2 linked regions of the Homo sapiens genome follow. The protein of the gene in region 2 interacts with the protein of the main gene of each other region in a biochemical or structural test. Each region holds a gene or a part of one and is shown on either strand. Other genes may lie near its edges.

Region 1 (3,821 bases), on a different chromosome or scaffold from region 2:
ACTATGTACCAAGTTTTATAACAGGCCCTAATTATTAGACAGTGAACAAAAAGGTTATGGTCTCTGTGATATGGAATTTTAAGGCTATTTTGGGTATTAGTAAAAGCAAGCAAACACAAATGAATCTATCAATATAAATTGGGATACATGCTATAAAGGAATGGAACAGGATGATATGAGAAATAATAAAATACTTCAGAGAGAAATATCTTTTCAAAAGCAATATTTGTGCTGAATGAAGAGTAGCAGTTGGTAATCCATGGAAAGAAAAGGAGGAAATTTCAAGAAGAGGGAATATCAAGTACGAGGGTTTTCAAAAAACTTGGAAAGCCCAAGAAACAGAGAAGGCCAAAGTGTGGCTAACACAGAGTGAGAAAGAAAACAAGATGAGGTTGGAGAGGCAACAGAAACCAGACCATATAAGATCTTTTAGGCATTGTTAAGGAATTTGCACTGTATACCAATTGCAATGGGAAGCAGTCAGTGGGTTTAACAGCAAGGTGAATGTAACTGATTTACATTTCTAGGAGAAATTCTGGGGGCTCTATGGAGAATATCTTTGATGGTGAGGAGACAGGAACAATGATGAGACCAGAAGGAGCAAGATCAGGTAGTAGGCTACTGCAAAAAATCCAAGAGAAAGAGAACAATGTCTTGGACAAGAGTTGTGAGAGCAGAAATGGAGAAAAGTAGATGCACTCAGGAAATATTTTGGAGGTAGATTATTCAACAAGCCTTGATAACAGATTTTGATGTGGGAAATGAGTGAGGAAAAAGACATAAAAAATAGTTCTAATCCTTTAAGGTTGCATGCAGATCAAATAGTGATACTTTAATTTTTTCTTTTTTATTTACTGAAATGGAACACATTCCTATTTTAGGTTATGTTCTTTAAGAACAGACAAAACTAGGTCCAATAACCATATCTTCAGCAACCAGTAAAATGCCCAGCACACAAAGATTATATATACACATTTTTTTTTTGAGACGGAGTTTCGCTCTTGTCACCCAGGCTGAAGTGCAATGGCACGATCTCAGCTCTCTGCAACCTCCGCCTCCCGGGTTCAAGCAATTCTCCTGCCTCAGCCTCCCGAGCAGCTGGGATTACAGGCACACACCACCACCCCCAGCTAATTTTTGTATTTCTAGTAGAGACGGGGTTTCACCATGTTGGCCAGGCCGGTCTCAAACTCCTAACCTCAGGTGATCTGCCCGCCTTGGCCTCCCAAAGTGCTGGGATTACAGGTGTGATCCACCACACCTGGCCTTCAATATATATTTCTTACATGTATGTATGAATACATAAAGAAACGTGAACAAATCTGAAACACTATAAAGCCATGAATAACAAAATTATAATATAATTAAAAGTAGGAAAATTCATACCTAACTGGAGTGTGTGGAGGAATTACATTCACCTCTTCATCAAGGTTACTTTTTCGTGGTGTTCTCTGTGTTTCAAAACTAAATAACAATAAGTGAAGTCATTCACATACTGAAAATTTACAATTTGTGCTTTATGCATCAAAAAAGCAGTATAATGCTTCTGTTGTCTCATAAAATCATATAAAATGATAACTCAATAATAGATAGGATAGAAAATAGATGACCCAGCTGCTGCTTAAATAAAATATTTTTCACTACTCTTTTTAATTGTGGGTCTCTTTCCATTATGTTTATGACAAAGAGGTATACCAATCATTAAGTCTTTTTTTAAAAGTGAAAGTCAGATGCTTTCTCCCTGGTGGTATTGATAACCAAGTTGTTCAGTATTAAAAAGCATTAAAACTCAAGTTTTTCAATGCATTATTCCTTCTAAAAACTTTATTTCCACTTAAATAAAATTTAAAACATTTTACTGTGTTTAACTTCTAAATTACGCATATTTTCAGTTTCATATTAAAAGAGTTCATGCTAAAGACACAAAATTAACTTTACTTATGATCAGTCAAAAATTTTAACAATCACTCTCAACCATTCCAATTTTAGGTTTCTACATGATAATAACAGAGACTACACTTTTGTATAAACTTTTTTAAATAAACCAGGCAGGCAATAGTATATGAAAGGATAGAAATAAGGTAGAGACCACTATTTGAAGAAACTAATTACTTTAGCCATTATCTTTTGGTGCACATTTTAAAAAATTATATTCAGTTAACTGCAAAAAGGTAACTGTTATAGGACACACAATTCACATTAAATCTATATTTGTAGATAAGTTATATGCTTAAAATACTGTTAAACTTTTCTTTGTATAAAGACATTTGAAAGTAATTTGTTATAAATGATATCTAAAGGTCACTAAGCTAAAGACTATATAATCTACCTATATCAGTATCAACCTATATCTAAAGCAAATCAATCAAATATACCATGTGCAATACCTGTCTATAGAATCAGTCTGAAGAGTTTTATCATGATCCAAAAATAATCTTGCATCTAGATCTTTATTTTTAAGATAAATTTCTTCGTATCGTTTAGAAAGATTTTCAACCTTGAAAGAAAAAAGTCACTGACAATTATCCTTTACATGTCATTACATCTCTCAGCACACAGAGGCACAGATTTCATTAAAGAATTTTTGTATAATATACATTTAATTTTGTAATATACACTGAGTTCGCATGCAATATAAATAAGGTCTATCTAAAAGTGAGGTACAGAAAATTGCAACATTTGTTCAACTTTGATTTTAGGTCTATTTCGTGCATAGAAAATATTTATTAGAATTTTATGTAGACAAAGATAGCCAATGCTACAAAACAGTACCTAAGATAAAAATAGGTATTATAATAACTGTTTAACTGCCAAGATTTTCCAAACATCCCATATATGCTTTACTTTTAATCTTTTTTTTTTTTTTTTTTTTGAGATGGAGTTTCGCTCTTTCGCCCAGGCTGGAGTGCAGTGGCACAATCTCGGCTCACTGCCACCTCTGCCCCCGGGGTTCAAGCAACTTTCCTGCCTCAGCCTCCCGAGTAGCTGGGATTATAGGTACCTGCTACCATGCCCGGCTAATTTTTGTATTTTTAGTAGAGACGGGGTTTCGCCATGTTGGCCAAGCTGGTCTTGAACTCCTGACCTCAGGTGATCCACCTGCCTCGGCCTCCCAAAGTACTAGAATTACAGGCGTGAGCCACCGCGCCCAGCCTGCTTTTAATCTTTTATGCTTATCAATATAAAATATTTTTTCAAACATTGTTGCAAATCCTCTTGATTACATATTCTACCAATGTTTTCTAAACCCTTTGGTTCACTCCAGTACCCTTCAGTTAAGTATCTTGGGCAAGACAATTAGCTCAATTTATCAGTTCAATTAACACACTTGCACAATTTATTCCCAATCTTAGATACTTTTTCAATTGCTAGAATTTGTAAATCTTTCATCAGTTCTGATCCATAATTTTTTAATTATACTTTAAAAACCAATGCCCAAGAGAAAACTATTGGCATGCCTTCTACTGTGACTTTTAACGCCAAAGTGATTCCAACCTCAGAGAAGTAAAATTGCATTTTAAAAGGAGTGATAGGAAGAAATCCAATTAAATGCAAACTTTTCATTAATCTTCATAAATGTATTAGATAGAACAGTAATCCATGCTTATGTTTAATCATTGTTCCTGTCCTACCTTAGTTGAGGCACTAATTACCAGTCATCTATTGATTGGCTATATTATGTGAAATATTGGAGAAAAAGTAAAATTACTCTTAAGATTTATATTAAAACTATAATCCTTTTAAAGGAGAAAAAAAGATTGCTACAACAGATTTTAAAGTTATGAACAGCCTAGTTTTTGGTACCAAAAGTGGTAACAAGA
Region 2 (3,821 bases):
GCGTGAACCACCGCACCTAGCCGTGCAAGACCCTCATACATGCTCTTCCCCTCGAGCTGAAATGTTCTTCCCTCTCTGCCTGATTTACCGCTATTCATCCTACAGGTCTCAACTCAAATGTCACTTCCTCAAGGAAGCCTTCTCTGATTACCTCCAGACTTCATAAACACCTGTGCTTTTCCGCTGCCTTTAATTTAATCTCCATTTGCTGAGGTATATTTGGCATGATTACACGATTGCATTCTGCTTCATCTATTAGGGTGTAAGCTTCACAAGAGAATGTTCTACTCACCTTGTATCCCTTGCCCAGAGCCTGGCATATTATAAGGACTCAAGAAATAATTTATTTAAAGGAAGAACTGGGGCTGCAGAGACAATTAAGGTCCTGCCCCCACCCTTGGAGGAGTTCACGACTTAGTGGGAAAAAGACGCTGTCATTTATAGACTGAAGATGTGCTTTGCAAGCATAGAGAAAGGGTAGTTAGAGGAGGTATCCCAGGTGGGGACAGTTAAACTAGGTCTTAAAGAATGAATAGGGTTTTTGCTAGGTGCAGTTCTGTGTGAGTACAGGCATGGAGACCTGGACATGTGCCTGGATGGCATGCATGTCATCAGTTGTGGCTTAAGTTGCGGTTATGTGGTAGGGAAGGGACAGGGTGGGAAGACCAAATACTAGGACTCTTGGTTACAGGTAACAGAAAGCCAAGTCCAACTGGCTTCAGCGGGAGGTATGGGTAGGGGTGGTGGGAACCAAATGACAAGTCCTGGGGGAGATTCAGAGATTGCTGGCAAGGTTGGATGTAGATGCTCAAACTATGACTTCAGGTCTGTCTCACGCTTTTCATCTCTCTGCTTTTCTCTGTGCTGACTCCATTCCCAGGTGGGCTCTCTCCTTGTGGTGGTAGAGGTAGCTTTTATGATACCAGCTCAGCAACCCCAGTGGGAAGGGGGCTTCCATTTCCCACAAGTCCAGCAAAAGTCCTGGGCCTAGTGCTGGTTGGATCCACCTGAGCCATGGGCCATCCTGAACCAATCATGTCACACTAACTTTCCTGGCTGCGTCACAAGCTCACCCACTGGCATTGGGGAAGGGTGCTGCCCCCCCCCCCCCGCCCCAAAACTAGATGACCTGAGAGTGGGGGGAAGAGTGATTTCCCACAGGAAAATCAAGGTGTTCCCCCTAAAAGAAGTGGGCTTCAGGGCCAGACAGCAGAAACAGCGGAAGTCCACCTTAGTTAGGCCAGATGGAGTTGGTCTCAGTGCCAGCCCAGGGTTTGAGCTTGCACCCATGGATGGCAGCAGCCACGTGCGTCTGTCCATACACACTAAGTGTAAGTGTCCAGCTGCCCAGAGCAATGACCTGGCTTCTCTTCCTCCTCCAGGACAACCTGCAGATATATCTCAAGAGCACCCAAGGGCCCATCGAAGTCTACCTGTGCCCAGAGGAGGTGCAGGAGCCGGACAGTCCTTCCGAGGAGCCTCTCCCCTCTACCTCCACCCTCTGCCCCAGCCCTGACTCTGCCCAGCCCAGCAGCAGCACCGACCCTAGCATCATGGAGCCCACAGCATCCTCAGGTAGGTCCCTTGTCCAGAGGGACAGGAGGTGGGGGGAGAGACCGGCCTTAGTTTTCTCTTCTATATCAATGTTTGTTGAAAACCTCCTGTTTTATCCAGCAGCTGGGGATGTAGTCATCCTACCCCACACATGTGCATTGTACTTAATGCTTTATAAAGCCTCACTAGGAAGGCTGGTGCTGCTCCAGGGCAGAGGAAGGCCTGGATTTGAATCCCAGCCCATCCACTTACCAGCTATGTGACCTTAGACAAGTTACTTAACCTCTCTTGGCCTCAATTTTTCTCATCTGTGAGTTGGGCGCAGTAATTAATACTGTCTAACTCATAGGTTGTTGTGAGATTATATAGCTCACGCCTATAATCCCAGCAGTTTGGGAGACTGAGGCAGGAGAATCATTTGAGACCAGGAGTTCAAGAGCAGCCCGGGCAACATAGGGATACCCTGTCTCTATAAAAAAATTTACAAATTAGCCGAGTGTGGTGGCACACGCCTGTAGTCCAGCTACTCGGGAAGCTGAGGTGGGAGGAACACTTGAGCCATGGAGGTTGAGGCTACAGTGAGCTCTGATCATGCCACTGCACTCCAGCGTGGGCAACAGAGGGAGACCCTGTCTCAAAAATAAAAATAAGAATAAAATTTTAAAAAATAGGCCAGGCGCTGTGGTCCCCACCTATAATCCCAGCACTCTGGGAAGCTGAGGTGGGAGGATCACTTGAGCCCAGGAGTTCAAGACCAGCCTGGGCAACATAATGAGACTCCATCTCTAATAAAAATAAAATAATAAAATTTGCCCATTAAAAAAAAAATAAGACATAGAGGTGATGTGTCTTACCTAAGGTCTCCCAGCTGGGAGGCAACAGAGCTGTGTCTTGAACCTTGGTCTACATACTCCCAGCCCAGTGCTCTCTCCACAAGGCATAGATCAAATCGAAGAAGGGGCTTCTGGCTGGGAGGTGGACGGTATGGTTAAGAGCTGGCTACCCCTGATGGAAGGTAGTACAGGTAAGTTGCCAGGGAGCAAAGTTCCTGAGAGCTTCCCAAGGAGGGTGGGAGTCCAGAAGGAGTACAAATGGAAGCCTGTAAAGGCCCCTCTCCAGAACAGTTTTTGCCTTTTCCTGGATCACACATCCGGCTAGACTGGCAGGATTCTTCAAGGCTATGTAGGCCAGTGTTCCACTTTTTGTCTTCTTAGCAGCAGAATTCTCTTAAGTAGAACCCTAGCGTTTAGACCAAGGTAGAGGTAGAGCTGGGCTGATGGAAGAGGCTTGCTGGAAGGGCTCTGCAGTACACTGGTTGTGTCCATTTCTCTAACTCAGAGGTTAATAAACTATTGCCTGCAGGTCAAATCTGACCTGCTTTTAATGACCCATGAGCTAAGAATGGTTTTACATTTTTAAAGAGTTGTGGGAGAAAGAAAAAGAAGGCAACTATGTGACAGAGACCACAAGTGTCCCACAAAGCCTAAAATACTCTCCAGCTTTTTTTTTTTTTTTTTTTTTTGAGACAGTCTCGCTCCGTCACCAGGCTGGAGTGCAATGGTATGATCTTGGCTCACAGCAACCTCTGCCTCCTGGGTTCAATCAATTCTCCTGCCTCAGCCTCCCAAGTAGCTGGGATTACAGGTGCCCGCCATCACACCCAGCTAATTTTTTTTTTTTTTGTATTTTTAGTAGAGACAGGGTTTCCCCATGTTGGCCAGCCTGGTCTTGAACCCTTGACCTCAGGTGATCCACCTGCCTTGGCTTCCCAAAGTGCTGGGATTACAGGCTCCAGCTCTTTATAGAAGTTTGCTGTCCCCAACTAACTCAACCCTTCTTTTAACACATGAATGAACACAGGCCCAGAGAGGGCAAGTGGCTTCCCTAAGGTCACACAGCAAGTTGATGGCAGAGCTGGGACCAGAGCCCAGCCTCCCAACTCTTCTCTAATGATCTCTCCTGTGTCTGTCAGGCCTCATCAGGGACCAGAGCTTCTCCCTGTGCTAGCCATCTGTCCCTTGGGACACCTCCCCAGTGCCTATCTCCCATCCCAGACCTCTGCCCCACCCTCTGGTCCATCCTCCTCCTGCTGTGCCTCCTCACTCAAGTGTCAGCATGCGCATAGCCCTCCGAAGCTGGAACCACCTTCGCTTCAGTTGTCCTCTGAGACCTTGGGTGGAGGTGGCAGATCCCAAAGCATAAACAAGGGTGTGAAGTTGTTTTTTTTTTTTTAAGACAGAGTCTCACTCTATCACCCAGGCTGGAGT

Evidence for each region.
Region 1: the proteins of E2F2 (region 2) and RB1 form a complex in vitro, tested with the Homo sapiens proteins (2 studies listed by BioGRID and IntAct, with this or other methods).

The regions. Positions count from the first base shown.
Region 1 is NC_000013.11:48,366,170-48,369,990, reverse strand, and holds part of RB1 (retinoblastoma-associated protein), read right to left. Parts: intron 2,498-3,821; coding exon 2,388-2,497; intron 1,465-2,387; coding exon 1,387-1,464; intron 1-1,386. UniProt on the Homo sapiens protein: Tumor suppressor that is a key regulator of the G1/S transition of the cell cycle. The hypophosphorylated form binds transcription regulators of the E2F family, preventing transcription of E2F-responsive genes.
Region 2 is NC_000001.11:23,514,089-23,517,909, reverse strand, and holds part of E2F2 (transcription factor E2F2), read left to right. Parts: intron 1-1,382; coding exon 1,383-1,575; intron 1,576-3,821. UniProt on the Homo sapiens protein: Transcription activator that binds DNA cooperatively with DP proteins through the E2 recognition site, 5'-TTTC[CG]CGC-3' found in the promoter region of a number of genes whose products are involved in cell cycle regulation or in DNA replication.